2 separate regions of the Homo sapiens genome follow, and region 1 is linked to region 2. Evidence: fine-mapped expression QTL. A gene starts in region 2. The other region holds a variant in brackets. All regions are shown on one strand. Distances are between the middles of the regions.

Evidence for each region. PIP is the estimated chance that this variant, and not a neighbour inherited with it, causes the effect.
Region 1: its variant is fine-mapped to the expression of SLC20A1-DT in whole blood (TOPMed, PIP above 0.99).

What each region holds. Positions count from the first base shown.
Region 1 is chr2:112,608,368-112,624,611 of GRCh38, reverse strand. It overlaps LOC124907869 (a long non-coding RNA gene), which reads right to left. Exons shown (of 2, transcript XR_007087193.1): 2 at 9,188-10,399. It also overlaps the pseudogene RPS20P11. Among named protein-coding and RNA genes, the nearest start is that of SLC20A1-DT, 28 kb to the left of the region's middle. RefSeq lists an enhancer at 1-132. The variant T/G (reference allele first, on the strand shown) is at 8,704.
Region 2 is chr2:112,637,399-112,653,642 of GRCh38, reverse strand. It overlaps SLC20A1-DT (SLC20A1 divergent transcript), which reads left to right and starts at 9,463. Exons shown (of 5, transcript NR_033871.1): 1 at 9,463-9,544; 2 at 9,628-9,684; 3 at 10,350-10,464; 4 at 11,454-11,560; 5 at 11,661-11,813. SLC20A1 (solute carrier family 20 member 1) reads right to left here and starts at 7,704. Exons shown (of 11, transcript NM_005415.5): 1 at 7,514-7,704; 2 at 6,481-7,080; 3 at 6,179-6,319; 4 at 5,905-5,990; 5 at 845-941. The coding sequence starts at 6,814. LOC107985934 (a long non-coding RNA gene) reads right to left here. Exons shown (of 2, transcript XR_001739642.2): 1 at 16,073-16,244; 2 at 13,797-14,683. RefSeq lists silencers at 6,457-6,751, 7,213-8,042 and enhancers at 10,682-11,881, 12,477-12,771, 12,011-13,210.

The DNA.
Region 1 (16,244 bases), 29 kb after region 2:
TGGTTTCTCACACGCAGGAACCCCACCCTGCCCTGGTGAGTCACGCCTTCACTTGGCTTCCTGATGTTGGAGGGCAGGCCTCCCTTACTGCCTCAAGGCTGTTCATCATCTTCAGCTTATATCCTGGGTCAACGTTGATGACTACTTTGCTGGCTTTAATTAAGTGGTCTATGGGCCAGGAGAATAAGGATCAACATCATCTGGGGACTTGTCAGAAATGCAAATTCTCAGGCCCCACCCCAATACTACTGGATCAGAAACTCTAGGTTGGGGTCCAGCAATCTGCGTGGTTTTTGTTTTAGTTGATGTTATTGTTTTAGAGACAGGGTCTTGCTAGGCCGCCCAGGCTGGAGTGCAGTGGCTATTCACAGGCACAATCATAGCATGCTGTAGCCTCAAACTCCAGGGCTCAAAAGATCCTTCTGCCTCAGCCTCCCAAGTAGCTAGGACTACAGGCGCACCCTACTGCGCCCAGCTGAGCAATCTGTGTTTTAAAAAGCCTTCCGGATAGCTCTGATGCATGATAAAGCTTTTATGAACCTCTGCTCTGCGGAAATGCCTTACCATCTCACATGCCTACCAGCTATGGTCATAAGCACACATTTTATATAATCGTACCAAGTTTTGAAAAATCTTTTCCAAGTTAAATCCTAGACAGGTGTACAAATTATATGTTAAGAAGTAACAGATAAATCTTACAGCCCAATTATTTGAAAATAAGAATCAAGTCATTTGAGTCTGGGCCTTCGAAATTTGACATGTAAGAATATTCATAGAAAATTGACTTAGTCCTAAATTCTTATCCCTAAATCCTGTTTTGTTTTGTTTTTTAATTTTTTTTTAAATTTTTTTTGGTTTTTTTTTTTTGAGTCAGAGTCTCGCTCTGTCGCCCAGGCTGGAGTGCAATGGCACAATCTCAGCTCACTGCAACCTCTGCCTCCCGGGTTCAAGCAATTCTCCTCGCACCTCAGCCTTTTGAGTAGCTGGGATTACAGGCGCCCGCCATCATGCCCGGCTAATTTTTGCATTTTTAGTAGAGATAGAGTTTCACCATATTGGCCAGGCTGGTCTCGAACTCCTGACCTCATGATCTGCCCACCTAGGCCTCCCCAAGTGCTGGGATTACAGGTGTGAACCACTGCACCCAGCCCCAAATCCTGTTATCTAAAAGATGACAAAATTTGAGCCTAGGCAACATATCAAGACCCCATCTCTACAAATTTTTTTTAAGAAATAGCCAGGTGGCTGGGCGTGGTGCCTCACCCTGTAATCCCAGTACTTTGGGAGGCAAAGGTGGGTGGATTACGAGGTCAGGAGTTCAAGACCAGCCTGACCAATATACTAAAAATACAAAAATTAGCTGAGCATGGTGGCACACGCCTGTAGTCCCAGCTGCTTGGGAGGTTGAGGCAGGAGAATCACTTGGACCTGGGAAGTGGAGGTTGCAGTGAGCCGAGATCAAGCCACCGCACTCCAGCCTGGGTGACAGAGCGAGACTCCGTCTCAAAAAAAAAAAAAAAAAAAAGAAAAGAAAAGAGAAAAGAAATAGTAAGGCATGGTGGTGCATGCTTATAGTCCCAGCTACTCAGAAAGCTGAGGCAGGAAAATCACTTGAGCCCAGAGGTTCAAGCCTTCAGTGAGCTATGACTGCCACTGCATTCCATCCTGGGCAGCAAAGAGAGTCTCTGTCTCTACTGAAAAAAAAAAAAAAAAAAAAGAAAAGAAAAGAAAAAAAAAAGAAAAGAAAAAATTTGGAAATAAATTAAAAGTGCATAAAAGTTATTAAAATACTGCTAAATAGTAATAGATAATTTATCTTCCTCTTTACACTCTGCAGAAGAAACGGTGAATGGTACTTATTAGGCAATGTGTAAAGCACTTGACGTGTGTAATCTTATCACATCTGCACAAATGACACACGATCCAAAGAACATTTTTGGCTCCAACTTACAGATGAGTAAGCAAGCTCAGGGAGGATCTTTCCTGATAGATATTTAGCAGCAGAGAGGGCCAGGAATTGGGTTCTGTAATCTCAGTCTGTGCTCATTTTACTGGAAGCCACATGTGTAGATACTGGTATTATCTGAGCCTAATCCCTGGAATCTCTATGGTCAATTGGAGAGAGGCTTAGGGAGGTCAGGGGATAGACAGGTCTTGGCCAGAGTCCACCTCACAGTGGGTCAGGTAGGATCCCAGGCACACCGTGTGGCTATTTTGCCAGCCTTGCTGTCCTTATCCGAGGAATGCGGTCTGTCATGGTGGGAATGCCCAGTTAGAATCCTTGAAAGGGCCACCTACAACCAAGATAATAACCTAAAAACAATTCTGTGGAGGAAGACGCGGTCGTAGGTGCTGAGGATTTCTCGTTCAGACGCTCCTGCTCCTGACTTACCGCTGTTCACTCTCGCCGAGGAACAAGTCGGTCAGGAAGCCGCGCAGCAGCCTTGGCTTTTAAGGATACCGGAAAACACCCGTGGAGCCGGAGGTGGCCATTCACCAAATTCGAATCACCCTAACAAGCCGCAATGTAAAATCCCTGGAAAAGGTGTGTGATGACTTAATCAGAGGCGCAAAGGAAAAGAATCTCAAAGTGAAAGGACCAGTTCGAATGCCTGCCAAGACTTTGAGAATCACTACAAGAAAAACTACTTGTGGTGAAGATTCTAAGACCTGGGATCATTTCCAGATGAGAATTCACAAGCGACTCATTGACTTGCACAGTCCTTCTGAGATTGTTAAGCAGATTACTTCCATCAGTATTGAGCCAGGAGTTGAGGTGGAAGTTACCATTGCAGATGCTTAAGTCAACTATTTTAATAAATTGATTACCAGTTGTTAAAAAAAAAACAATTCTGTGCCTGATGACATTGCAGAAATTAGTTCCATAAAGATTTGAAAGATGCAGGGCTACTGATTTCCATAACACCATTATTACCTCACCTATTTGGTCAGTGCAAGAGGCAAATGTTGGTGGAGAATGAAGGTGGATTAACACAAACATATTCATGGGTTTGCTTATCCCGCCCACAGCACTTCCTCCAGCACCATATATTCATAGATTTACAAATGCTTATTCAATTGCAATGATGTCTTACATACAAATTATTTGTCCATGGGCATGTTTTCATGATAAAAGATGTTAAGCTATGGGCCATGGCTATGGAGTTCCTGCTTACTACATGCCACATCTCCTAGCAGCAGGCAGCTTCACAGAAGGTAGTGGAAAGACCTGCCGCAGCCTTAATTATGGTGGCAGTGTGGGCTCCACATCTACGACTTTACAATGTGTAGTGAACCTTTGGATACCTCTCAGAATTTCCCATCAGGACCTAAGCAGTGATTCCATGAGCTGCTAGAGTATGGACTGCTAATGATTCACAGGTGAAACCTCTTCCAAGAATGTCCTTGGCCCACAGGAACAGTCTTACCCAAGGTCATGCACCCTTCCCAGTGTAGGGACACACAGCCTGTTCTAAGGATATGTAATACTTCTGTCCATAATGGCAAGTGATGTTGCCTTTGGAAAAATGCTACAGTGAGAACAGCATTAGTGGGATGAGAGCACATCCAGGACCCACTGGGCTCCCTGAGCCCAGCCATGTGGTGTGGGTGAAGCAGTACAGGCGGGGAAAAGACCACTGCACTGAGGAAAAGAGCTGGCAGGGTCCAGCGTGCTTAAGAACAGTGTCCAGGCCAGGCACAGTGGCTCATGCCTGTAATCGCAGCACTTTGGGAGGCCGAGGCGGGCAGATCACGAGGTCAAGAGATCAAGATCATCCTGGGCCACATGGTGAAACCTCATCTCTATTAAAAATACAAAAATTAGCTGGGCATTGTGGCGTGTGCCTGTAGTCCCAGCTACTCGGGAGGCTGAGGCAGGAGAATCGCTTGAACCCGGGAGGTGGAGGTTGCAGTGAGCCAAGATCAAGTCCCTGCACTCCAGCCTGGCATCAGAGTGAGACTCCATCTTAAAAAAAAAAAAAAAAAAGCAGTGTCCGGCAGACTGTACAGACTGCACTCTGCTCAGGCCAGTTAGCTCTAATGATCCTTTTCAGCTACAAGTGCCAGTGACTGGCTACTCTGTAGAATGGGGTCATCAGGCATCAAAAGAGTCACATAATGGCATTACAAGATGGCCAGACATCCCTTGATCCCAGAGGAACATTTTGTGCCAGCACCTCCAGCTTCATGGAGGCATTGATACACCAAGTCCCTGAGGATGCCTGAAGCTGGTTCACAGATGGAGCCCGCTAAGTTACAGGCTGGCGGATTGTTCTTGGCCCTTGCAGCTGTGCAGCCACAGGGGAAAACAAAAGCTGTTTAAAATTTTGCACACAAAAAAAAGGTACTACCCAGTGGACAGAGTTGGGGACAGTGGTGGTTTTCCTGAAAAACCCCTCCAAAATGCTCCTTGCTGCTTTTTCATTGATTTAGAGACGGTAGCCAATGGGCTGGCAGTGCGGGCCTGTGCCTGGAAGCAAGACTAAATGATCAAGTCTCAATCCCTATGGCAGTGAACATTATGGTATCAGACTTTTTTTTTTTTTTCTGAGATGGAGTCTCCCTCTGTTGCCCAGGCTGGAGTGCAGTGGTACGATCTCAGCTCACTGCAGCCTCCATTTCCCAGGTTCAAGTGATTCTGTTGCCTCAGCCTCCCAAGTAACTGGGATTATAGGCTTGCACCACCGTGCCTGGCTAATTTTTTTTTTTTTTTGTATTTTTAGTAGAGACGGGGTTTTGCCATGTTGACCAGGCTGGTCTTGAACTCCTGACCTCAGGTGATCCACCATGCCTGGCTATTTTTTTTTTTTTTTATTAGAGATGAGATTTTTGCCATGTTGACCAGGCTGGTTTCGAACTCCTGACCTCAAGTGATCCACCGCCTCAGCCTCCCATGCTGGGATTACAGGCATGAGCCACCGCACCCAGCCTCAGATTTTATTAATACTACACCACTGCCCTCTGTTTTATGGATGTGGATGTCCATAGAAATAGCATGAGTGGAATTCAAAACCCAATCAGACTTGTGCCTTCCAGGTAAGGACAACTGAATACATCATCACAGAGGCCACGACATTCTGTCTACAGTGCAGGACTGGGACCCAAAGCAAAGATGAATGACTCCAGCACAGGAAGCCACCGAAGTCTGGTAAATGAGCCTGTCAGTCAAGGGGCAAAGAAAACTCCAGGGCACATATAAACTCAGGACACCAGATTCTGGCCAGTCCTGGCAAATAGGCTACATAACCTCCTAAATGCTCCACTTGGGGATGCAATTAAGCATTTCCTACAGTAGGCACCTTTCTGGGTATGGCATGGCAATGTAGGTCCTTACCACAGATAGGAGGTAGATGTAACATAAATTTAGGGACTCGCAGATGACCTGTGTTACATACTGAGATTCCCTGAATGTATCTCATCAAATGATGCGCATTTATAGTCAAGAGTACCCAACACTGGCCAACCACCTTGGACATTGCCAGGACATCTCAGGACCCTCATCACCCACAGGCAATAGATGCCATAAAAGGATGGAATGAGGCTGGGCGCCATGGCCCACACCTGTATCCCCAATACTTTGGGAGGCTGAGGCAGGTGGATCGCTTGAGACCAGCCTGGGCAACATGGTGAAACTCTGTCTCTACATAAAATACAAAAAATTATCCGGGTGTGGTGGTACACCCCTGTGGTCTCAGCTACTGGGAAGGCTGAGGTGAGAGGATCACCTGGGCCCAGGAGGTTGAGGCTGCAGGGTAAGCCGTGATTGAACCACTGCATTCCAGCCTGGGCGACAGAATGGGACCCGGTGTCAAAAAAAAAAAAAAAAAAAAAAAAGAGAGAGAGAGAGATGGATGCTTAAAGGAGAAGCTAAAAAGGGTACATAGAGAACCAAAGCTCAATTCTCAGTAGAGTACACACTTAAAACAGACAATATGGATTCTAAATGTGCCAATACCCCAAAAGGGAACTTCCTTTTTAAATAGAATCTGTGTGAGTTTGAGGAGTCGGGGAGGAGGCCCAGACTGTCTGTAAGAGACCCAAACCAACACAATATACTCTCCTTCTTCATTCCTCCTTTCCCTCCCACGCTCACCCCTGGGGAAACCAAACTATGCTGCTTTTTTCTTTTTTTTTTTTTTTTGAGACGGAATCTCACTCTGTCGCCAGGCTGGAGTGCAGTGGCGCAATCTCAGCTCACTGCAACCTCCGCCTCCTGGGTTCAAGCAATTCTCCTGCCTCAGCCTCCTGAGTAGCTGAGACTACAGGCGCCCACCACCACGCCCGGCTAATTTTTGTATTTTTAGTAGAGACGGGGTTTCACCATATCGGCCGGGCTGGTCACAAACTCCTGACCTCAGGTGATCCACCCACCTTGGCCTCCCAAAGTGCTGGTATTACAGGTGTGAGCCACAGCGCCCAGCATTTTTTTTTTTTTTTTTTTGACACGGGGTCTTGCTCTGTCGCCCAGGCTGGAGTGCAGTGGCACAATCTTGGCTCACTGCAACCTCCGCCTTCCTGGTTCTAGAGATTCTCCTGCCTCAGCCTCCGAGTAGCTGGGACTGTAGCTGGGACTATAGGCGTTTGCCACCATACCCGGCTAAATTTTAGGTATTTTTGGTAGAGACGGGGTTTCTCCATGTTAGCCAGGATGGTCTTGATCTCCTGACCTCGTGATCCACCTGCCTCGGCCTCCCAAAATGCTGGGAATACAGGTATAAGCCACCATGCCCAGCCTAACCTGATGCTGCTTTTACTGTCCAGTTATGCTTCCTGGATCTGGGCAATTATAGATACTGATGATATTGATCATGAGTATGAAGTGACGACTCCCAAAGTGGTCCCGGCATGGCACACTATGTGAGGGAGTGGAAGATGTTCTAGATGGCACAAGTTGCAAACACACACACGCACACACACACAAAGCTGCACTGCTTAGGAATAAACTCAGCCATATGGTGTGTATTAGACTGAGTGAGGACTGCAGGGACTAGCTATACCTATCTCATGGCCATGAAAAAACATCAAAAGCCCAGGATGGTGGTGAAGGAACACTCTAGATCTCTCTTGGCTCTTGCCTGCAGAACACCTGGCTTGGCCTGTCATCTCAGAATCTTTTTGTCATGTTGTCCAGGCTATCACCACTGCCCTCAGTCTAACTACTACTCCCATTCTATCGAGAGACCTTAAATCGAGGACCTCCAACTTTAGAAGTGGAGAACTTCTGCCCAAGACATCAGAAAAAAGATAATTTTCTGGACACTTAGGTTTCTTTCCTGCTTTCTCCTATCCTATTATTGCTGGTATCTCTGGTCCCCTTCCACTACCTAAAAAAAATAACAAAACTTCCTTGTGTTGCTCAATCTGTCTTACCCCTCCTGACCCTGCTGACAAACTTTTAATAGCTCCTCCTGCCTGGGCTCGATGGCTCATGCCTGTAATTCTAGCACTTTGGGAGGCTGAGGCAGGTCGATCACTTGAGATCAGGGGTTCGAGACCAGCCTGGCCAACATGGTGAAACCCCGCCTCTACCAAAAATATGAAAAATTAATCAGATATGGTGACATGTGCCTGTAATCCCAGCTACTTAGGAGGCTGAGGCAGGAGAATTGCTTGAACTCAGGAGGCGGAGGTTGCAGTGAGCCTAGTTCGTGCCAAAGCACTCCGCCTGGGGGATAGAGCAAGACTTCATCTCAAAAAAAAAAAAAAATCTCCTCCTTTGAGTACTTTGGAAGTATTCTTCCAGGAACTATTCCTTCTTTCAGGCTCTTTCTGATACTTAAATTTCCTTTATATTGTTAATCCCAGCCTCCAGTCTTGTGAGAATTGGACCTTGACGTCACGTCAGCACTGTGCTGCTGCTGTGGTCACCCAAACCTATTAGCAGAATCTAATTCGCCCTGAGCAGGACGTAGCATTGAGACTAGGTTGGGCTACGATAGCCGGAGACTTATACTCTTACAGTTTTGCCCCAAATGAATAGCACTTCTTATGGTGGATATCAGGCATATAATTGCCTACCACGCACCTAGTTTGGGCTATCAAGTGTGAGCGGTAATGGATGATCACATTGCCCTGGATTTTCTGCCAGCCAGCCAAGTAGGACATCTGAATTAATGACATACCTAACTGGCTTGGCTCTGGATGGGAAGTCTGATTGCAGCCTATCTTTTTCCAAGCAGGCCTAATTGTCCTCCTGGGAGTCATCATCATGGTTACTCTCATTTAATGTTGCCTAAGGAAAAGGATTTGGTCCAACCTTCTACCAGTACATCTAAGGTAAGTGATGGAGAATTTCCAGGCCAGGCATGGTGGTTCACACATGTAATATCAGCACTTTGGGAGGCCCAAGTGGGCAAATCACTTGAGCTCAGGAGTTTGAAACCAGCCTGAGCAACAAGGTGAAACTCCACCTCTACCAAAAATTCAAAAATTACCAGGTGTGGTGGTGCACACCTGTGGTCACAGCTACTTGGTAGGCTGAGGAGGGAGGATCACTTAAACCCAAGAGGCAGAGGTTGCAGTAAGCCAAGATTGTGCCACTGCACTCCAGCCTGGGCAACACAGTGAGACCTCATCTCAAAAAAAAAAAAAAAAGAATTCCCAGGCTCAGCACAGTGGCTCATGCCTGTAATTGCAGCACTTTGGGAGGCCGAGGTGGGTGGATCACTTGAGGCCAGGAGTTCAAGGCCAGCCTGGCCAATA[T/G]AGTGAAACCCTGTCTCTACTAAAAATACAAAAAATAGCCAGGTGTGGTACCACATACCTGTGGTCACAGCTACTCAGGAGGCTGAGGCATGAGAATTGCTTTAACCCGGAGGCAGAGGTTGCAGTGGGCCGAGATTGTGCCACTGCACTCCAGCCTTGGGCAACAGAGTGAGACACCATCTCAAAAAAAAAAAAAAAAAAAACAATATCCAGAAGAATTATCAGCGGGGTATGTGGAAGGTCCAGCATGGTGGTATGGAGTGCCAACTCCACAGTGCCCTGGCAACCCTGCATGTCTTCACTTAGGCCATGTAGACAAGGCTCAACCACAGTCTGACTCCCCTTGTGCAAGAACACCCGAGGCTCCTGAAACACGGTGAGATTGTAACCGCCCAGTGGGTTCACTTTGCCCCCTGCCTAGACAAAGCCCATTTTTCAAGACAGGGGAATTACATGGAGAAAAAGTAATTCATGCAGAGCTGGCTGAGCAGGAGACCAGAGTTTTATTATTACTCAAATCAGTCTCTCTGAAAACTCAGGGATCAGGAGAGAGGTTCAAGATGGCCGAATAGGAACAGCACCAGTCTGCAGGTCCCAGCGAGATCGATGCAGACGGTGGGTGATTTCTGCATTTCCAACTGAGGTACCTGGTTCATCTCACCGGGGCAGGTTGGACAGTGGGTGCAGCCCACAGAGGCTGAGCGGAAGCAGGGTGGGGTGTCACCTCACCTGGGAAGCGCAAGGAATCGGGAAATTTTCCCCCTGACCCAAGGGAAGCTGTGAGGGTCTCAGCCTGAGGAACTTGGGCACATATACTGCACTTGTTCCATGGTCTTCACAACCTGCAAACCAGGAGATTCCCTCTGGTGACTACCCCACCAGGGCCCTGGGTTTCAAGCACAAAACTGGGCGGCCAACTGGGCAGACACTGAACTAGCTGCAGGAGCTTTTATTTTATTTTATTTTTCCATATCCCAGTGGCACCTGGAACGCCAGCGAGACAGAACTGTTCACTCCCCTGGAAAGGGGGCCTGAAGCCAGGGAGCCAAGTGGTCTGGCTCGGCGGTTCCCACCCCCATGGAGCCCAGGAAAGTAAGATCCACTGGTTTGAAATTCTCGCTTCCAGCACAGCAGCAATCTGAGATCCACCTGGGACGGTGGCGCTTGGTAGGGGGAGGGGCGTCCGCCGTTGCTGAGGCTTGAGCAGGCGGTTTTACCACCACAGTGTAAGCAAAGCTGCTGGGAAGTTCAAACTGGGTGGAGCCCATTGCAGCTCAGCAAGGCTGCCGTGTTCAGACTGCGAGATTGCTCCTCCCTGGACAGGGCATCTCTGTAAAAAAGGCAGCAGCCCAGTCAGGCTTGTAGCAGACTTAAACGTCCCTGCCTGATGGCTCTGAAGACAGCAGCGGATCTCCCAACACAGCATGCGAGCCTGCTAAGGGCCAGACTGCCTCCTCAAGTGGATCCCTGACCCCTGTGTATACTGACTGGGAGACACCTCCCAGTTGGGGCTGACAGACACCTCATACAGAAGAGCTCTGGCTGGCATCTGGCAGGTTCCCTGCTGGGTCGAAGCTTCCAGAGGAAAGAACAAGCAGCAATCTTTGCTGCTTTGCAGCCTCCACTGGTGATACCCAGGAAAACAGGGTCAGGAGGGGACCTCCAGCAAACACCAGCAGACTGGCAGCAGAGGGGCCTGTTAGAAGAAAAAGAAACAAACAGAAAGGATTAGCACGTCCACTCAAAGACCCCATCCGAAGGTTACCAACATCAAAGACCAAAGGTAGATAAATCCACAAAGATGGGGAAAAACCAGTGGAAAAAGGCTGAAAAATCCAAAACCAGAACGCCTCTCCTCCTCCAAAAGATCGCAACTCCTCGCCAGCAAGGGAACAAAACTGGACAGAGAATGAGTTTGACGAACTGACAGAAGTAGGCGTCAGAAGGAGGGTAATAACAAACAACTCCGAGCTAGAGGAACATGTTCTAACCCAATGCAAGGAAGCTAAGAACCTTGAAAAAAGGTTAGTCAAATTGCTAACTAGAATAACCAATGTAGAGAAGAACATAAATGACCTGATGGAGCTGAAAAACACAGCATGAGAACTTCGTGAAGAATACACAAGTATCAACAGCCAAATCAATCAAGTGGAAGAAAGGATATCAGCGATTGAAGATCAACTTAATGAAATAGAGAAGACAAGAGTAGAGAAAAAAGAATAAAAAGGAATGAACAAAGCCTCCAAGAAATATGGGACTATGTGAAAAGACCAAATCTACGTTTGATTGATGTACCTGAAAGTGACAGGGAGAATGAAACCAAGTTAGAAAACACTCTGCAGGATATTATCCAGAACTTCCCCAACCTAGCAAGACAGGCCAACATTCAAATTCAGGAAATACAAAGAACACCACAAAGATACTCCTTGAGAAGAGCAACCCCAAGACACATAATTGTCAGATTCACCAAGGTTGAAATGAAGGAAAAATGTTAAGGGCAGCCAGAGAGAAAGGTCGGGTTACCCACAAAGGGAAGCCCATCAGACTAACAGCAGATCTCTCGGCAGAAACCCTACAAGCCAGAAGAGAGTAGGGGCCAATATTCAACGTTCTTAAAGAAAGAATTTTCAACCCAGAATTTCATATCCAGCCAAACTAAGCTCCATAAGTGAAGGAGAAATAAAATCCTTTACAGACAAGCAAATGCTGAGGGATTTTGTTACCACCAGACCTGCCTTACAAGAGCTCCTGAAAGAGGCACTAAACATGGAAAGGAACAATGAGTACCAGCCACTGCAAAAACATATCAAGTGTAAAAAACATCGACACTATGAAGAAACTGCATTAACGGGCAAAACAACTAGCTAGCATCATAATGACAGGATCAAATTCACACATAACAATATTAACCTTGGGTTGGGCATGGTGGCTCATGCCTGTAATCCCAGCACTTTGGGAGTCCAAGGCAGGCGGATCACAAGATCAGGAGTTCGAGACCAGCCTGACCAACATGGTGAAACCCCATCTCTAATAAAATAAAAAAATTAGCCAGGCCTGGTGGCAGGTGCCTGTAATACTCGGGAGGCTGAGGCAGGAGAATTGCTTGAACCCAGGGGGCGGAGGTTGAGTGAGCTGAGATGGTGCCATTGCACTCCAGCCTGGGCAACAGAGTGAGACTCCATCTCAAAAACAAAAACAAAACAAAACAAAAACAATATTAACCTTAAATGTAAATGGGCTAAATGCCCCAATTAGAAACACAGACTGGCAAATTGGGTAAAGAGTCAAGAACCATGAGTGTGCTGTATTCAGGAGACCCATCTCACATGCAAAGACACACACAGGCTCAAAATAAAAGGATGGAGGAATATTTACCAAGCAAAAAAAAGCAGGAGTTGCAATCCTAATCTCTGATGAAACGGACTTTAAACCAACAAAGATCAAAAGAGACAAAGAAGGGCATTATATAATGGTAAAGGGAACAATGCAGCAAGAAGAGCTAACTATCCTAAATATATATGCACTCAATACAGAAGCACCTAGATTCATAAAGCAAGTTCTTAGAGACCTACAAAGAGACTTAGACTCCCATACAATAATAGTGGGAGACTTTAACACCCCATTGTTAATATTAGATCAATGAAACAGAAAATTAACAAGGATATTCAGGACTTGAACTCAGCTCTGGACCAAGCAGACCTAATAGACCTCTACAGAACTCTCCACCCCAAATCAACAGAATATATATTCTTCTCAGCACCTCATCACACTTATTCTAAAACCGACCACATAATTGGAAGTAAAATACTCCTCAGCAAACGCAAAAGACCAGAAATCATAACAAACAGTCTCTCAGACCACAGTGCAATCAAATTAGAACTCAGGATTAAGAAACTCACTCAAAACTGCACAACTACATGGAAACTGAACAACTTGCTGCTGAATGACTACTGGGTAAATAACGAAATGAAGGCAGAAATAAAGATGTTCTTTGAAACCAATGAGAATAGAGACACAATGTACCAGAATATCTGGGACACATTTAAAGCAGTGTTTAGAGGGAAATTTATAGCACTAAATGCCCACAAGAGAAAGCAGGAAAGATCTAAAATTGACACCCTAACATCAAAATTAAAAGGACTAGAGAAGCAACAGCAAACACATTCAAAACTTAGCAGAAGACATGAAATAACTAAGAGAGCAGAGCTGAAGGAGATAGAGACATGAAAATCCCTTCGAAAAATCAATGAATCCAGGAGCTGGTTTTTTGAAAAAATCAACAAAATAGATAGACTGCTAGCCAGACTAATAAAGAAGAAAAGAGAGAAGAATCAAGTAGTCGCAATAAAAAATGATATAGGGGATATCACCACTGATCCTACAGCAGTACAAACTACTATCAGAGAATACTATAAACACCTCTATGCAAATAACCTAGAAAATCTAGAAGAAATGGATAAATTTCTGGGCACATACACCCTCCCAAGTCTAAGCCAGTAAGAAGTCGAATCTCTGAATAGACCAGTAACAAGTTCTGAAATTGAGGCAGTAATTGATAGCCTACCAACCAAAAAAAGTCTAGGACCAGATGAATTCACAGCCGAATTCTACCAGAGGTACAAAGAGGATCTGGTACCATGCCTTCTGAAACTATTCCAAACAATAGAAAAAGAGGGAATCCTCCCTAACTCATTTGATGAGGCCAGCATCATCCTGATACCAAAACCTGGCAGAGACACAACAAAAAAAAATTTCAGGCCAATATCCCTGATGAACATCGATGCAAAAATCCTCATAAAATACTGGCAAACTGAATCCAGCAGCACATCTAAAAGCTTATCCACCATGATCAAGTTGGCTTCATCCCTGGGATGCAACCCTGGTTCAACATACGCAAATCAATAAACGTAATCCATCATATAAACAGAACCAAAGACAAAAGACACATGATTATCTCAATAGATGCAGAAAAGGCCTTTGATAAAATTCAACACCCCTTCATGCTAAAAACTCTAATAAACTAGGTATCGGTGGAACATATCTCAAAATAATAAGAGCTATTTATAACAAGCCCACAGCAAATATCATACTGAATGGGCAAAAACTGAAAGCATTCCTTTGAAAACCGGCACAAGACAAGGATGCCATCTCTCACCACTCCTATTCAACATAATATTGGAAGTTCTGGCCAGGGCAATCAGGCAAGAGAAAGCAATAAATGGTATTCAAATAAGAAGAGAGGAAGTCAAATTGTCTCTCTTTGCAGATGACATGATTGTAAATTTAGAAAACCCCATTGTCTCAGCCCAAAACCTCCTTAAGCTGATAAGCAACTTCAGCAAAGTCTCAGGATACAAAATCAATGTGCAAAAATCACAAGCATTCCTATAAACCAATAACAGACAAACAGAAAGCCAAATAATGAGTGAACTCCCATTCACAATTGCTACTAAGAGAATAAAATACCTAGGAATCCAACCTACAAGGGATGTGAAGGACCTCCTCAAGGAGAACTACAAACCACTGCTCAAGGAAATAAGAGAGGACAAAAACAAATGGGAAAACATTCCATGCTCATGGATGGGAAGAATCAATATCGTGAAAATGGCCATACTTCCCAAAGTAATTTATAGATTCAATGCTATCCCCATCAAGCTACCACAGACTTTCTTCACAGAATTGGAAAAAACTACTTTAAACTTCATATAGAACCAAAAAAGAGCCTGCATAGCCAAGACAATCCTGGGCAAGAAGAACAAAACTGGAAGCATCATGCTACCTGACTTCAAACTATACTACAAGGCTACAGTAACCAAAACAGCATGGTACTGGTACCAAAACAGAGATATAGACCAATGGAACAGAACAGAGGCCTCAGAAATAACACCACACAGCTACAACCATCTGATCTTTGACAAACCTGACACACACAAGCAATAGGAAAAAGATTCCCTATTTAATAAATGGTGTTGGGAGAACTGGCTAGCCATATGCAGAAAACTGAAACTGGACCTCTTCCTTACACCTTTTACAAAAATCAATTCAAGATGGATCAAAGACTTAAATGTAAGACCTAGGACCATAAAAATCCTAGAAGAAAACCTGAGCAATACCATTCAGGACATAGGCATGGGCAAAGACTTCATGCCTAAAACACCAAAAGCAATGGCAACAAAAGGCAAAATTGACAAATGTGATCTAATTAAACCAAAGAGCTTCTGCACAGCAAAAGAAACTACCATCAGAGTGAACAGGCAACCTACAGAATGGGAGAAAAATTTTGCAATCTATCTATCTGACAAAGGGCTAATATCCAGAATCTACAAAAAACTTAAACAAATTTACAAGAAAAAAGCAAACAACCCCATCAAAAAATGGGCAAAGGGTATGAACAGACACTTCTAAAAAGAAGACATTTATGCAGCCAACAGACATGAAAAAATGCTCATCGTCACTGGTCATTAGAGAAATGCAAATCAAAACCACAATGAGATACCATCTCATGCCAGTTAGAATGGCGATCATTAAAAAGTCAGGAAACAGGCCGGGCACGGTGGCTCAAGCCTGTAATCCCAGCACTTTGGGAGGCCGAGGTGGGTGGATCACGAGGTCAGGAGATCCAGACCATCCTGGCTAACACAGTGAAACCCTGTCTCTACTAAAAATACAAAAAAATTAGCCAGGCGTGGTGGCAGGTGCCTGTAGTCCCAGCTACTCGGGAGGCTGAGGCAGGAGAATGGCGTGAACCCAGGAGGCAGAGCTTGCAAAGAGTTGAGATCGTGCCACTGCACTCCAGCCTGGGAAAGATGGCGAGACTCTGTCTCAATAAAAAAATAAATAAATAAATAAAAAGTCAGGAAACAACAGATGCTGGAGAGGTTGTGGAAAAATAATGCTTTTACACTGTTGGTGGGAGTGTAAATTAGTTCAACCATTGTGGAAGACAGTGTGGCGATTCCTCAAAGATCTAGAACTGGAAATATCATTTGACCCAGCAATCCCATTACTGGGCTTATACCCAAAGGATTATAAATCATTCTATGATAAAGACACATGCACACGTATGTTTATTGTGGCACTATTCACAATAGCAAAGACTTGGAACCAACCCAAATGTCCATCAATGATAGACTGGATTAAGAAAATGTGGCACATATACACCATGGAATACTATGCAGCCATAAAAAAGGATGAGTTCATGTCCTTTGCAGGGACATGGATCAAGCTGGAAACCATCATTCTCAGCAAACTATCACAAGGTCAGAAAACCAAACACCACATGTTCTCACTCATAAGTGGAAGTTGAACAATGAGAATATATGGACACAGGGAGGGGAACATCACACACCGGGGCCTGTCAGGGGGTCGGGGGCTAGAGGAGGGATAACATTAGGAGAAATACCTAATGTAGGTGACGGGTTGATGGGTGCAGCAAACCACCAGGGCACGTGTATACCTATGTAACAAAACTGCACGATGTACACATGTTTGCCAGAACTTAAAGTATAATTAAAAAAAAAAAAAAGAAAAGAAAAGAAAAC
Region 2 (16,244 bases):
GGGTGCATAGCACATAGTAAGCATTAAGTGGCTTCATGACACTATTCCAGTTATCTTTCTCTCTACATACATACATGTGTGTCCTGTATTTCATCCAGTGGGTCACAGTATAAAGAATAAAAGTCACTGCCTATGTAGTCACAGACCATCAGGCCAAATGAGTCTAGATACCAAAACTGTACTGTCCTGCCAGTTACAAGTTACCAATCTTTTGTTGTTGCTAAATTAAACTTGTAGCGCCATAATTTAATCCATGCCTTGCCTTAGTCCCAAACATGAAAGTCATCAACATTTCAACCTTTATATTCTCACAAATTATTTTTCCTCTTAGCTGCATGAATTTCTTCTTCCAAGTGCACTTAGAGCAGGTGGTAAACATCCCAACTCTTCTCATTCAAGCAGATTCATGGAAGTTTAGTACTTAGAAACAATAGTATCTCCATTTGGGAGAGAAAAATGAGAATATCCAGCAAACCAGTCCTAAATGACTGATTACTGAAGATCAGATATAACTAATGACTTCAGTAGTTGAGGTCAGTATTAATTCCAGCATTTTTAGCATAGACAGGAGAAAGGGAAGGAGATGATCATATTATCAGTGGATCCTGTGAAGACTAAAGAGGAAAGGTCTGTAGTGATTTAGAATCTGAGCAGGTCTCTTTGGTTGAAAAACTATCTAGGTTAACTCAGCGTACACTAGCCTGCAGCCTTCTGAAATGGGCGCAGGCCAGCCACCTTCTAGGAGATTTCAGCCCTGTAAAGCAAAAAGGGGTAAATTGGGCATTTAATGCAAGTTTTGTAAACAACTTTAAATTCACATTTAAATATTTTGATAGGTACTTACACGGTGCTCCAGTATACATGATGGAAAAGAGGTTTATTCCAACTGTGCAGGCATAGAAAACTGGCAAAGCTCGCAAACCATTAGGAACTGGATCTGCCTGTAAAACATCATTAAGATCAATATCTTAAAAGGTATAAAGGTTAACCCATTTCCACAGAATCTTTTAACAGGGTAGGTTTGGGAATTATAGTGCCAATAACTCTCTCCAGAGTAGTTTCCAAGGACAACAGAGTTTTTCCTGCATTTGCATCTGGAATTCTTCCTACGAAGGCTAATTCCAACTTCTACCTGTTTTTTTTTCTTTTTTCTTTTAATAACAAGACTAACTGTACCAGTGACTGATAACATCCTGAATAAAGATTGCAATACCCACATTCTAAGGTACCCAAAAGCCCTAATATAAACTTCAGCACACACCTGAGGATAGGCTATACTCTACGTTTGTAAGAGATGTCAAGAAATAGACTATGTTAGGATGTTGCTTACCTGACTTCATATCTTCAAAGACTAAAAATACAACATGCAGACTATGCGTACGCCAACCATCTTATCTAAACATCTGACAAAGATGCCACAATTAATGCTTTACCGAAGTTCAATGATAATAACTGATTGTGCACAAGGTCATCCACTCACTCAAAAGACTGTGTGCCAAGTGCTATTCTGGGCACCGAAATATAGGAGGGAATAAGACCAAGTTCCTGTTCTAATAGAACTGACACTCACCTTCTAGTATGGAATAATGTAAAGTACTGACAAATGCTGTGAAGAGAAATAAAGAAGGGTAAGAGGAGAGTGATGGAAGGGGGGGCACCATTTGGGTGGGGAGGGTCAAGGAATAAGCATGACATAAATGTAGTAAGCTAGCAAGCTGTGTACATTAACTATGGGTACAGAAGGGGCAAACCACCTGATTATTTGGGCGCTGAATGTTCCAGACAGAGATATCAGCAAATGCAAAGGCCCTAAGGCAAAAACTTGAAATGTTTAAGGAACAGTAAGGCCAGTGACTAAAAATAAGAATTCTACCATACCTAGTATGTATTAATTCTATAGGAGAACACCCAAGTCAAACACCGAAAGAATGGGAGGAGGCTGGGCGCGGTGGCTCACACCTGTAATCCCAGCACTTTGGGAGGCCGAGGCAGGACAATCATGAGGTCAGGAGATCGAGACCATCCTGGGTAATACGGTGAAACCCTGTCTCTACTAAAAATACCAAAAAAATTAGCCCGGATGTGGTGGCAAGCATCTGTAGTCCCAGCTACTCTGGAGGCTGACTCAGGAGAATCACTTGAACCTGGGAGACAGAGGTTGCAGTCAGTGGAGACTGGGCCACCTCACTCCAGCCTGGGCAACAGAGTAAGACTCCATCTCAGAAAAAAAAAAAAATTGGGAGCAAAGATCTGAATACATATATGGGAAGGCTAAAAACTTTATAAAGACCTTAGCCTAAAAGGTTTAATGTTATCTTGATCACAATTCCAGTGGAAAATCTTGGGGAGGAAAAACAGAAAGTAAAACCCTACAGCTTCCAACAATAATCAATACACTGGAAAGTTAGTAGCTTAAGACCAGTGAAACAAGGGAAAGCTCAGACCCATGTGTAAAGTAAAGGTACCATTTCAAATTAGCAGAGATGAGCACTCATTGAAAACCACTCTAAAATTTAACTCTTATCTATAGTTTAATAGAGAATGTTAACAGATAGTGAAATAGCCAAAACAAAAACAATAGCATACAGAAATCAAGAACTGTTAAGCATCCTTGAATAACTAACTCAACGGTGGTCAAACTCTGAGGGCAGTCAACAAGATTAGGAAACTAAGGTGTGTATTTTTATTCTAAAGACTAGTCTTAAGAAAATGCAGGTCAGGTGTGGTGGTGGCTCATGTCTGTCTGTAATCCTAGCACTTTGGGAGGATGAGGCAGGGGATGGCTTGAGCCCAGAAGTTCAAGACCAACTTAAGCAACAGAGCAAGACTCCACCTCTATAAAATATAAAAAGTTAGCCAGATGTGGTGGCACACACCCATAGTCCCAGCTACTCTGGAGGCTGAGGCAGGAGGATCACTTGAGCCTGGGAGGTCAAGGCTGCAGTGAGCTACAATTAAGTCACCGTACTCCAGCCTGGGTGACAGGCGAGACTTCGCTTAAGAAAAAAAAAAAGCCAGGTGCAGTGGCTCAAGCCTGTAATCCCAGCACTTTGGGAGGCCAAGACGGACAGAGCACCTGAGGTCAGGAGTTCAAGACCAGCTTGACCAACGTGGTGAAACCCCGTCTCTACCAAAAATACAAAAATACTAGCCGGGTGTGGTGGCGCCTGTAATCCCAGCTACTCAGGAGGCTGAGGCAGGAGAATTGCTTGAGCCCGAGAGGCGGAGGTTGCAGTAAGCCCAGATCGTGCCACTGCATTCCAGCCTGGGCAACAGAGTGAGACTCCGTCTCAAAAAAAAAAAAAAAAGGCTCCAAAAAACCCAACCCAAGACTCCCACCCCCAAAAATTTCCTGGGTTTTAAAGACATTATGTGGGGACTTCTCAATAGATTTTCAAAGATATTTCGTAATATGATTATCCATAAATCAAATTGTAATTGACTAGTCTGAAGTAGCAGCCTGTGTATTTATTATCCTGTATAGCATAGCCCAATTAAGTATTCCCTGAGGTAAACAAATCTGAGGTATTCTCTACGCAAAGTTGTTGGGGATGGGGTAGGGTATGAATGACACTACTATACCAATAGTTTATTGTGAAATACAGGTTCATGGTTAAAAAAAAATCAAAAGTTCCAGAGAGTCTAGGAAGAAGGTAAAACAAGAAAGGTCTCATCATTGTAGAGATCCACCTAACACACAAGTAAAACTTCACCTGGAAATAATGTGAATGCCTCATCGTCTAGTCATGTGGGACAGGAAAGGTCTTCACAAAACCCCCCATCTTCACCAGAATAGTTCACTTTTACATATTGGATATTCTGGTTTTGTCTAAAGAAAAGGGAAGACATCCTAAATATATTTCTAACTAATGAGAATGCCAAAAGCCCTATTTTCTTTGACTAGAATTTAAAAATACTCAACAGGAGCACTGAAGCATATTCCTTCTGTGCGATGCCAGTCCTAAATAGAAGTACCTCACCTCCATTCTGTCTGTTCCCACCTATCCCCAACATGCTTGGAACAAACATTCAGAGAATAGAAAATGTTTAAAAGCAATTTTTTGAAATTAAAAAAAAAGGTCATGTTAATCTTAATTTTCAAGATAGACATTTAAGAGTTGGAATATATCTTAATGGTCAAATATTCAGATTTTAGCAGTTAAGATACCAAAAGCTTACCAGTCTAAGGATATTTTCTTGAAATTTAACTCCTAAAAGGAAGCAGAAATATTCATACTCAACTGAAAACTCCTGTTACTGAGGGATTGGCCTGCAAGAGTGTGTGTGTGCACGTGCACAGAGTGGGGGAAGATCCTCAAAGTCAATATTGTTTTAAACACTATGCCAATCATTCTTCATCATTTGATCATGCCCATTCCCATACCCATATAGGAAATATACAATTAAGAAATCAGTTACCGTATCTAACTTCAGCCCTCAATAACACCGTGGGGGTATGCATTCCTCAAATGAGAGGTTCTGGGCACCTGAGAATCCCTCTTTGCACCTCAGAGCACCACCATTCCCCTTCCGGGGAATAAGTGTTTTGTGGAGGTGAAACACACAAACCCTCTCCAAAAACAAAATGATCTGCTACTCAATAATCAACACAGGGCCAGCATAAACCTTTACCAAGCAGGAATTCACAACAGGAGATCCTACTAATGCTTCTGACTCTCTGCTAAGTAGCAAGATATACAGTTCTAATGAAAACTCTAAAAAAAACAAAAAAATCTGGTCCATGACTACTGGTGAGCCTCTAATTTAAGCATCCCAGTATCATACACTACAGTTGTAGGGAGTGGGAAGGTAGATGCTTATCGTACCTGTCTGCTGAATAAAACAGTACCAAACTTAGGAGTCCATAAATATCAATGAACTGTTTACTCTCATATTATACCAGGCTAAAGATATTTCAAGTTTTCAAAGTGTTAAACTGCTATATTCTGCCAGATTCTGGCTATGGAAAACAGTGATTAGTGAATCACTTTACTAGTCATAGAATTTCTACAGAGAAGAGACAAATCTTTCCCTAGAGAAGCTTACAACTAGACCAGACAAGTGGGTCTGAATACATTCTTACCTGCTGGGATTTATGCTATCTCCCTCAGATTTCTACAGTTTAGGAACACTTTTAAGAACTTACAATGGATTGTTAAGAGCCATTCACCTTAGAAAAAGGACAACTTTGTTTCCTGAGAAAAATGCATTTATCCTCACTGTAACTCAGTCCTATGCCAACATAATCCCTTGTCAACATTTATTTTGCAGCCAGCAAGACTTCTTGATAAAAGAAATGCAAACTGGGTCACTTAAAAGGGATTTTCAAATGGACAGGAAATTAAATGGCTGCCTGAAGTTTTTTTGGGGGGCGGGCCAAAAACTACCTTTAACTGGTTCTTTTCAACTATTCTGAGAAATTGGAGTCAAGTCACTATGGGAGGCAGAGTCCTCATCTAGAAGCTTATAAACTGGTTATGATAATCAGCACGGCAGAGACCCATTTAACTGGCAGCTTAGTTAAAAAAGCCACAGGGGACACTGTCTTGAACTCCAAGTTTACGTATTATATTAGCCTGAATATAACAGTGGTTTAAACAAATAATGTGTATACAGCTACACAAAACCACGCAAAATAAATTTCCTTATTTTTTTGCTCCCAGTTTCTCCTACTTCTTGGCACATCATAGTATTCAATTTTTCCTTCCTGACTGCCCTCTTGAGTATTAAAAACTCGCTTTCAGAGAACTCCACAACATACAAGAAATGCACAGAACAAAGAGCTTTTTAAAATTTTCCAAGGCCGCATACCTATACACCAATCACATCTGCAAAAGTACCACTGGGTTTGAAATCGATTGGGTGTGCTCCATGAAAGGTCTTCATACGGGGGAGAAAGGTTACCTTATGGAGGATGAATGCACGAACCAGGAAGAATAAAATTCCAGACATAATTCCAGAAAGCAGTGGGGACACGAACCAAGACATCACTGGAATAGAACACATTAAGAAAAAATATCAAATAATGAAAATCAGAAACCAAAAACCACTTTAAATGTTTAAGAGTTCAAAATTCTTGGGTCTGTCCCTCGACGTTAGAACACATCCTCCCATACCTAATGCCATGGTAACATATGACGAAAACGAAAATTAAGAAGCCGTTTGGAATTAAACATACCAATTTTTATCAGTTCAGACCACTTGACACCCTCCTGCCCCTTTGCCACGAGGGAGAAACCAATAGTTGCACCAACAATACAATGGGTTCCAGAAATAGGGAGCTTCAAAAACGAAGCCACGAGTTGCCACACAGCAGAACCTGAAACATAGTAAAGTTTTATTAAGTAAATATCAAAATTCCATTATGTAAGTGGCACATTCAGAAAGGTTAATCGGAAAGGTTATGCACAAAAATGGAACCACCCATGATACAAATTTGCTCACCCACCACGAAGAGGACAAAACATAAAAAGAACTTACCAAACATAGCACTGACTGAGCCGGCCATCAGCAGCCCTTGAGTCGAGTTGTACATCTCCACGTCAATCAAGCCCTTCCGGATGGTTTCGCTCACTTTGGCCCCCAGTAAGACAGAGCCCACTGTTTCAAAGATGCTAGCTAGGATGCAGGCTTGCTTCAGGGTCACTACACCTGAGCCCACAGCTGTACCAAAAGAATTTGCTACATCATTGGCTCCCACGGAGAATGCCAAGACAAATGCAATAATGAAGCCCAGGATGAGCATCCATAGGTAGTCCACCAAAGGACCAGAAGCGGCGGTAGCAGCTGTAGTACTGGTAATCAGCGTTGCCATTCTCTGGAGTAGTGGTTGTTTAGTAAGAGAACTACTGAGCGCCTTTCAAGATGTGTAAACAGAATATGAGGTATCAAAAATGCTATAATAAATAATATATATTATATAAAATTAAATACTGTAAACTACGGCACAGAAACCGAGCTGGGGAGTTACTGCTATACGCTGCGTATGGGCATCTGTTGTCTGGGGTTTCTTTGGCTCAGGAGGGCTAAAAGCACGGAGCAGAATTCCATGGCGGAGAAGAGAAAGGACGCAAGTTCATCCTGCGGGGGAGGGGGGAAATAACAATAGCTGCGTGCCCCTGGGGGGCCAGTGGGGCACCCCGCTCTACCCACGCGCCCGGGGTCCCGCAATAGCCTCTGCCGGCTACTCCAGACCCCCATCCCCAGTAGGACGCGCGAGAAGGAGAGGCACGTGGCTCCGGGTCCTCCGCGGCCCGCGCGCGCCCAGCCCAGCCCCTGCGCTGCCAGCCCGCGCGCGCCCTCCGCGCGAAAATCGGAAAAGGGCCGTTCCCGCGCGCGCCGCCCGGGGACCGCCAAAAAGGCCCGCGGGCGGGCAGACGGGCGGAGTGGAGGCGGCCAGCGGCGAAGAGAGAAGCCAGCCGCGCCGCCCACGGCGTCCGCCTCCAGCGCCACGGCGTCCGCGCCCGGCCCCGGGGAGAAGAAAGAGCCTTTACGAGGCGGCGCCACTACTCACCAGGGAAAAGGGAGGGCGGAGCGGGAGACGAGGAGATCGAGGCGACAGCGGCTGGAGCCACGGGCACACGGCCCGGGTCGGCGGCACCGGGGACAGCTCAGCGGGACTCACGACCTTCCCAGGAAGCAGCCGCGGGGGTTTCAGCGGCCGAGAAGAAGAACCACGCAGAGAGCGCCGGCAGCCATCACTCCAGCGGAGCACCCCGCCGGCCCCTACTTATAGCCCGCGCAGCGACCCGCGTGACCCCGCCGCGCCTCGCGCCGGCCCCGAAGCCCCGCCCCCGGCATGACGCAGCCCTCCTCGGCCCGGCGTGCCCAGCCGGGTGAGCCCGACGGTGGCGCTCATTGGCCCGGCCCGCTTCGGCGGCCACGCCCCCAGCGGGGAGCCGGTCCACGTGGGGCGGGACAGCCCCCTCCCTGCGGCCTCGCCCTGGAGTCTCGGCACCGTCTGGCCCCGCCGGCTGATTACAGCCAGAGATCGAGGGGGACCTCGCTGTCCCCCTAGAGGCCGTCATGCGGGGTTACAGAGGCTGCGACCAAAGTCATTCCTAGCTCCTCTCTCGGGGCTCCGGAAAGCCGTCCGCGCCTCCAGCCGCACTTTCAGCGCACGCAGGACCTGCCGCGCCCGGTGGCCACACCCGTCCCTCTGCCGGGTGACGCTGCGGGAGATCTTGCGCCCTGGGGCTCCGGATCCAGTTCTGGCACGTTGTTGCACCTGTGACTTGTCCTTGGCCTGGCACTGTCCCTCGCCTGGGGGAAGCGGGGGGGTGGGGGGGGGATGCTCACGTGGTCGCTTTGCTCCCGCAGTCATGCACTTGGGTGAAAACAGACTGAAGAGTCACGGGAACCAGCTTGTCTCCCCAGTTATGGCGCAGAGCTGCAAGGATGGCTGTGGGTCATTAATTTCTCCGTGGCTGACCTGTGTTTGTAACGCCGCAGCTGTTGCGAGGGGGAAGGACACTGCTTCGGATTCAAATTCTGACTCCTTGCTGCAGTGTGTCACCTTGAGCCAGTCCCAGATCTCTGCGTTCTCACAATTGTAAAATGTTAACAGAGGCTGCCTACCTTGTGGCTGGAATTAAATGAATTAACGTGTGTGAATGTGACTAGAATTCAGTACATGTTCAGGAAAAGCTGATTTCCGCTTTGCTGTTACCGTGAATATTACTGTTTTAGGGTGTAGAAAAGGGTGGAAGGGGATGTTATTGCATCCTGGAAGCTTATCCTTTTGAGGTAAAGATTGATTTCTGGTCCCCTGCGTGGTATATAGTGTAGTTTTGACATTATTTAGATGTGTTATGCACATTTGGGTGTTGATTATATGGCTTACGATCAAGACTAACCAGTCATGCCGTGGGAGATTAAGGTCGTGGTCTCTTGTCAGGATTGTAGTGAGATTTAAAAATTCCAGCCAGAAATACCAGGCTTAGAATGCTCTGAAGCCCTCCCCACATTTTTGCCATCTCTAGCAGGAGGGCACTGCATAGCAGAAACAAAGACGTTGTAAATTGTTGCTGCCTGAGTCATTTATAGAGGCTTAAACAACCTGAATGTCCTCTGACCTACCTGTAACATTTGATGGAGTTGTATGAGTAACTTACAAAGCTGTAGGTCCCAAGGTCGGTCTGAAAAAGAAAGTTCATATCCGGGAGCACTGACCCCGTAGTGTAATCCTGGCACCTTAAAACGTACTGCTCCCTCCACCTTCACTTCAAGGTTATGAAAACATTGAGTAAAAGGGATGATCTGTTCAAAGTCCTTAGTGTTCTGCCAATTTAAAACAGTAATTTTCAAAGCAGTTATTTGCAAGGAAATTGCCTAGAACTTCTCCCAGTGTGCGGTTGTTTTGTGTGTTTGTGTGTGTGTTTTGTTTGTTTGTTTTCAGTCTGTCCACAGGCGTACTTTTATAGGTCTGTGATAGTAGGTAGCTCTTCAAGTTGGCAAACACCTGCTGGACAACCCCTGAGAGATTCATCTGAGTGAGAGAGCACTCTCCAGCCCCATCGGAGTGGGTTTGCAGGGAAATCATAAGGTAGAGATTCAAAGGAATTCCCTTGCGTTGCAAATGAAAACTGTATCTTCAGACTCTGATATAGTGTAATCCTTCCTTTTTAGGAAGAAATCCTTATCTTTCCAACACTGAGATGCTTCTGCCGAAGAGTAGAATGGGAGGTGAGGAATTGGGGTGGGCCCTCACTGCTTTGCCTCCGGATCAGTAGGGTACAGCCCTTGGAGACCAGGATCTTCCTTGGCTGGGACACCTTCGTCCTCCCCTAAGGGAGGAGAGGTAGGGATCTGCCTGTGGAAAGAAGTTACAGTGCCTTTTAAATAGAAATAGGAGGTAGGAGGACCGTCAGTTGTCAGTTCGTGCACAAATGGCATTGTTTCTGGCCTTATCTCTGAATGCTGAGGAAACAGGTCAGAGATCCTAAAGAGAATCTAATCTCTTAGAATCCAGGCATTGGCACAAACCCCCTCTAGCATCTTAGGGAGGTGGTTTGGTGTAGTGGTTAAACACATAGACTGTAAGACCAAACCACCTGCTCTGTCACTCACTAGTCCTGTGACCATAGGCAAATAAATTATCTGCCTCAGTTTCCTGATCTGTAAAGGGGTGAGATTGAGACTTCTAACTCACAGTGCTGTTGTGAGGACCAAATGAATGAATATATGTAAAGCCCTTGTAAAAGGGCTCTTATTCTCTTTGTTCAATAACTAGCTGAAGGCCTGTCATACATAGCCCATGTTTAAAATGAAGTATGTGTCAGATGTCAGGACCACCCTCTTCTCCCTGCCCTCTGATCCAAGCCCTTTCAAATTTCTCCCACGGCTCATAGTGAGGGGACACGCAAAACGGGCTGCTGCCGGAGGAAGAGGAACAGTGTTGTGGCTCATGCCATATGAATGGGCTCACTGGCCTGGCCCAGACCCTGACTGCCCACAGGATCTTTGGTGAGTCACTGTCACTGAGCCTGTGAGCCTAGGGTCCCTCTCCAACCTCACCCTCAGAGAGGACAGAACAAGATGACCTGTGGCATGCTGCAGAACACCATGTTGGGGACTGTGGGTTTAGAGTCCTCTTGGGGACATGTCCATCGTTCACTAATTCGGTGGAGTTGAGCTGCTGAGAGCTAGGAAAGCTACTCTCCCCCCGGATCCCAACCTAGCCCTGTGGAAGACCAGACAAAAGAAGGAAGCAATGACATTTCTGCACTTTTTAGTTCAGAGAGGCACAGTCAAGGAAATGCATTTGAGGTCACTGTTCGATGTACTTGAAGTACTCATCCTGGAAATAGTCTACTTGGAGTAGAGGGAGCTCAAGTGGGCATGGGAACGTTGTGGAACCAGACCAGGAACAAAGGCGGCTTCAGAGGCCGTCTGTGAGGACTTGCATGGGAGCAGGGGCGAGAACATCCAGGGAAGAGAAGGTAGGAGCCTTGGAGTAAAGGAGAACCAGCTCCTCTCCACCCACCAATGCCCTCCCCATCCCCAGATGAATGAGGTAATAATAATACCTGTAGCTGGACATGGTGGCTCAAGCTTGTAATCCCAGCATTTTGGGAGGCCAAGGCGGGTGGATCACCTGAGGACGGGAGTTCGAGACCAGCCTATCAACATGGAGAAACCCTGTCTCTACTAAAAATACAAAAATTAGTTGGGCACGGTGGTGCATGGCTGTAATCCCAGCTACTTGGGAGGCTGAGGCAGGAGAATCACTTGAACCCGGGAGGCGGAGATTGCGGTGAGCCAAGATCGTGCCATTGCACTCCAGCCTGGGCAACAAGAGCAAAACTCCATCTCAAAATAATAATAATAATAATATCTGTGATGCAGTTGAATGCTTACTGTGTGCCAGGTACTATTTCAGGTGCTCTGCATGGATTATCTCAGGTGATGCTCTCAATAAATCTCAGATGAGGTATTTTCCCCTTACTTTATAGACAGAGAAACGGAGGCACAGAGAAGGAAGCGGCAGTTAAAGCTGCGAAGAACCTAACAAATTTCAAGATTGTAAGTGCCTTTTCCCAGGATGCCAGCAAGTACTGAGGCAAGTATGATTGCCCTAGGTGCCAACTCTTATTTGCACTTAACACATTTACTTCCTCCTTCTTTCCCCCTCCTTTTTATTAACTCTGTTGCTTTTACAGCCTGTATTTTGAGCTGCATCAAACCCTGTTGGAATAAAAAAGGACATTTCTAGGAGATCAGTCTTCGAGATTGGCCCCAGTTTCCCCAGAGTAGGAAGAGGCAGGAAGCCAGAGCACATGTTCTCTCCAGAAATAAAGTTGTTGCAGTGGCCTAACCGTGTCTTAGAGTTACTGAAAACTCTGTTCTCTTGAGATTTCTCAAGAAAGGAAACCTATCTTGCAAGACAAAACCCACCTGTAGTCAATTCCTACAGGAAATAAATTCAAAATAATGTTTCAGGCAAGGGCCACATGTCACCACCACCACTTTCCCACCAGCTTTGAATGTGGCTGTCCTCTGTGTCTCCAGTCATTTCCCATTTCCCCCGGCATCTGTGGCTCTGTCCTGGCAGAGTCCAAGGGATGCTTGGGATCCAGGTGGGGGAAGGGTGCTTGAAAGCACCCAGACAGCCAAGCCCTGATATGGAGACTGGTTGAGACTGGTTGTGACTGGTCTCAGGCCAGCATCCCATGGCAAGAAAGCTGAGTTTTGGTTGTGCCAGACAAACTGGTGGGTCTATTTCTCCGCCAACACAGGAGTATGGGAGGTTGGCCCACCCTCTCTAGATTTTACATGCCTCTGTCCTGGCTGCACATGGCCTGGTCTCTTCCCTTTGGCTTTGAGTTCACACATGTGGGTGTGATATGGCATAGGAGCCAGGCAGAGGGAACAGAAGCACAGTTCTTAGAGCTTGAAATGGTCCAGGTGTCTCTGGAGCCAGCTTCTGGATAGCACAGCATCCTGAATACTTCTTTAGGAAGACGTCTCTGGTGACTTAAACTGGGACTTCTCGCTTTCCCCAAGGCCCAGTTTTCTCAGCTCTTAAACAGGGAAGAAAGGCAACTTGCTGGAAACTCAGGAACTTTGTGTAATGAAGATCCTACAGCAGAAAAGGAAGGGTCAGCTCGCTGCCCGCACAGTCCAGGATGTGTGGTTTTAGGCTGAGAAAGTGAGGGGGCAGCAGGACGTGAGTCATCCCCAAAGTCATCCCAGGAGGAGGTGGAGGGTAACAGCATCTGGCTTTGTATGGCTTCCCTAGCCTTTCATTCATTCGTCTGTTCAGTCAACAAATAGCCTGCTATGGATCTAGTGGATCAACAAGATTGACCAGCCCATGCTTTTATGGGCCACAAACCCCTTCTTGCATTGAGTTTCACACTGAGGACTGGCCATGAATACAACAGCCAAAGAGGCAAAGTCAATCTCTCCCTTCCCCCAACAGACCTGCCACTTCTGGACATGAACCACACACCTCATCTTCCAGTACATCCTTATTTATCATTCGCTCTCTCTACAGACCAGAGCACAGGAGACTGTGCCAGGCCACTCACTGCACAGTCCACTCCACCACTGCCGAGGCTCTTGCTCCCCAGCATTCCTCTTCCAGGGTCAGTGCCCCTCACTTGTCTGATCCCTTCAGCAAGAGAAAGCTTCCCAACAAGACCCCCCACCTCAGAGCTTGCTGGGCACAAAAAGCTGAGTTTTCAGGGAGGGAGTAGGGCCTGGGGCTGTACCTCTGCTTTCCTGGTCCAGAAATTCAGGTGTTTGGGGCACTCAAAGAGAGGCTTCTGCTATTGGGAACTGCCTCATGGGAGACTGAGGTTCTGAGCAGAACCCAGTTTCTTCATTTTCCGTGGGGAAGTCTATCTCCAATGATGGGACCCTCTAGCCCTCTGCCTAGAGCCTTCACTCCACCCCAGACCTGCTGAATGAGAATCTGCATTCTAACAAGATCCCCATATGATTCATAAGCATGCTGCAGTTTGGGAAGCAATCACAAGAATGACTCTTGCTACCTGGTAAGTTTAGAAACAATATGTTAACACATTCCGTTTCAGTCAGATGTTCAAAAAACACCACTTTTTTCTATTTTAAGTCCTGTTTTTCTGAGCAAGCATTCCTACTGTTCTAGGTAAGGGATAGTTTAGCACATGGGACCTGGGGCCAGACTATTAGAAATTAGAATCTTGTCGACCATTTACATGCTATGAGGTTGGGCAAATTGCTTAACTTCTCTGTGCCTCCCATTCCTCTGTAAAGTGGAAATAATAGGGTTGTTATGAGACTTAAATAAGTAAAATGCATAGCACTATCCCTGGCATTTAACAAGCATTTATTTGAATATTAATTGGGTTTGGGTATCCCCCAGTTTTGTTATTTTGTTTTTATTTGTTTATTAATTTTTTGAGACGGAGTATTGCTCCATCATCCAGGCTGGAGTGCAATGGCACAATCTCAGCTCAATGCAACCCTTGCCTCCTGGGTTCAAGCAATTCTGCCACCTCAGCCTCCTGAGTAGCTGGGACTACAGGCTCCTGCCACCATGCCCAGCTAATTTTTGTAATTTTAGTAGAGACAGGGTTTCACCATGTTGTCCAGGCTGGTCTCAAACTCCTGACCTCAAGTGATCCACCCGCCTCGGCCTCCCAAGGTTTTCAGATTACAGGCGTGAGCCACCCTGCCCAACCCAAGTTGGTTGGGTTTTTTGTTTTGTTTTGTTTTGTTTTTTTGTCACAAGGCCTCACTCTGTTGCCCAGGTTGGAGTACAGTGGTGCAATCTCAGCTCGCTGGAGCCTTGACCTCCCAGGTTCAGGTGATCCTCCTTCCTCTGCCTCCCCAGTACCTGGTACTACAGTTGCATCCCACCACGAATGGCTAATTTTTGTATTTTTTGTAGAGACTGGGTTTCACCATGTTGCCCAGGCTGGTCTCGAACTCCAGGGCTCAAGCAATCCACCCACCTAGGCCTCCCAAAGTGCTGAGATTACAGCCATAACCCACTGCACCCGGCCTAATTTTGTATACACCACCTTTACCATCTTTTAGGATGAAGTGCTTCTGTGGCTGGTCTCATCCATTTAGCATAGATTCTTGCCAGTTTTATTTTCCAAAAGTGATTTTCTTCCTGGGGGCAACTTACTGTTGCCCCAAAATATATCCATTTTAGGACTGTTCATTTATTCAACCATTCAGCACCTACCACCTGCAGGGAATATGAAATTTTTAACTGTGACCTTGAATACTGCCTCTACCTTTTATTTTGTTTTTTCACTCCTCCCTCTCCACCCATTTACCTCTCCCTTTTTAATGATGGTTATAAAATCAAATGTTAACGCTGATTTATAAAAACCATATATGTGTATATATATATATATATACACACACACACACACACACACACACACATATATATAGATATATATAGGACTCACTCTCCTGTTTCCAGATACCTTCAAAGGCATTGTTTCATTTTATCTTCACATCTGTGTGATGTAGGCAGAGCAAGTATTTTTTTTACCCTATCACAGGGAAATGAGGGTCTGAGAGCCTGCAGTCGGGCAAGTAGCAAGTTTTAGAGTAGGGCCTGGAGTCCTGCACGGTGGGCCCTGGCAGGCAATGCGTGAGAGACTCCAAGTCTACTATACTTCCCACCACCCTGTGTTAACTCCCCATTTAAGCCAGAGGAGTGACTTACAGGTATGGGGATAGGGATGGGACATTCAGGCCAGAGAAGGGAGAGAAAGGGACAAGGGAGAGAGTACTTCATGCAGTGACTTCAATTGCAAATACCCTATTCCATTGTCCCCACTAGAATTCATATTTATCAGACTTGTATTCTGATTATTTCATAATATATGGGCACCGAAACAACCAGACTAATAGGGGAAATAGTTTAGGGCAAGAGGAGCTCAAGATTTTTAAAAATTATTATAAAAATAATACATGCTCGCTGGGTGCAGTGGCTCATGCCTGTAATCCCAGCACTTTGGGAGGCCGAGGCGAGTGGATCACCTGAGGTCAGTAGTTCAAGACCAGTCTGGCCAACATGGAGAAACCCCGTCTCTACTAAAAATACGAAAAATTAGCCAGACATAGTGGAGCATGCCTGTAATCTCAGCTACTCAGGGAGTCTGAGGCAGGAGAATTGCTTGAACTCGGGAGGCAGAGGTTGCATTGAGCCAAGACCACACCATTGCACTCTAGCCTGGGTAACGAGAGCGAAACTCGGTATCAAAAAAAAAAAAAAATTAGCCGAGCATGCCTGTAATCCCAACTACCCAGGAAGCTGAGGCATGAAAATCTCTTGAACCTGGGAAATGGAAGTTGCAGTGAGCTGAGATCACATCATTGCACTCCAGCCTGGGAGACAAAATGAGACTCCTCTGTCTAAAAAAAAAAAAAAAAAAAAAAAAGCTCATGTAAAAACTATACCATAGAGAAGAATATCAAGTGAAAAATGCTCCTCCTTAGAATCTCAACTTTCTAGTCTAACCCCCCGACATAACTACTTTTAATCATTACTTGTAATACACACACACACACACACACACACACACACATAGGTATTTTCACTATAATATATAGTGTATACCTTTTTTCTTTTAATCAGATGAAATCATACCATGGGGTTTCGCAACTTGTTCTTGATACCTTTGCACGTCACTGCATATAGATCTTCTTGCACGCCTTCTTTTATTATCTGCAGTGGAATAGACCATTATAAAGCACGTCCTTATGCAAGTGGACTCTCTGGGTCATGGGCT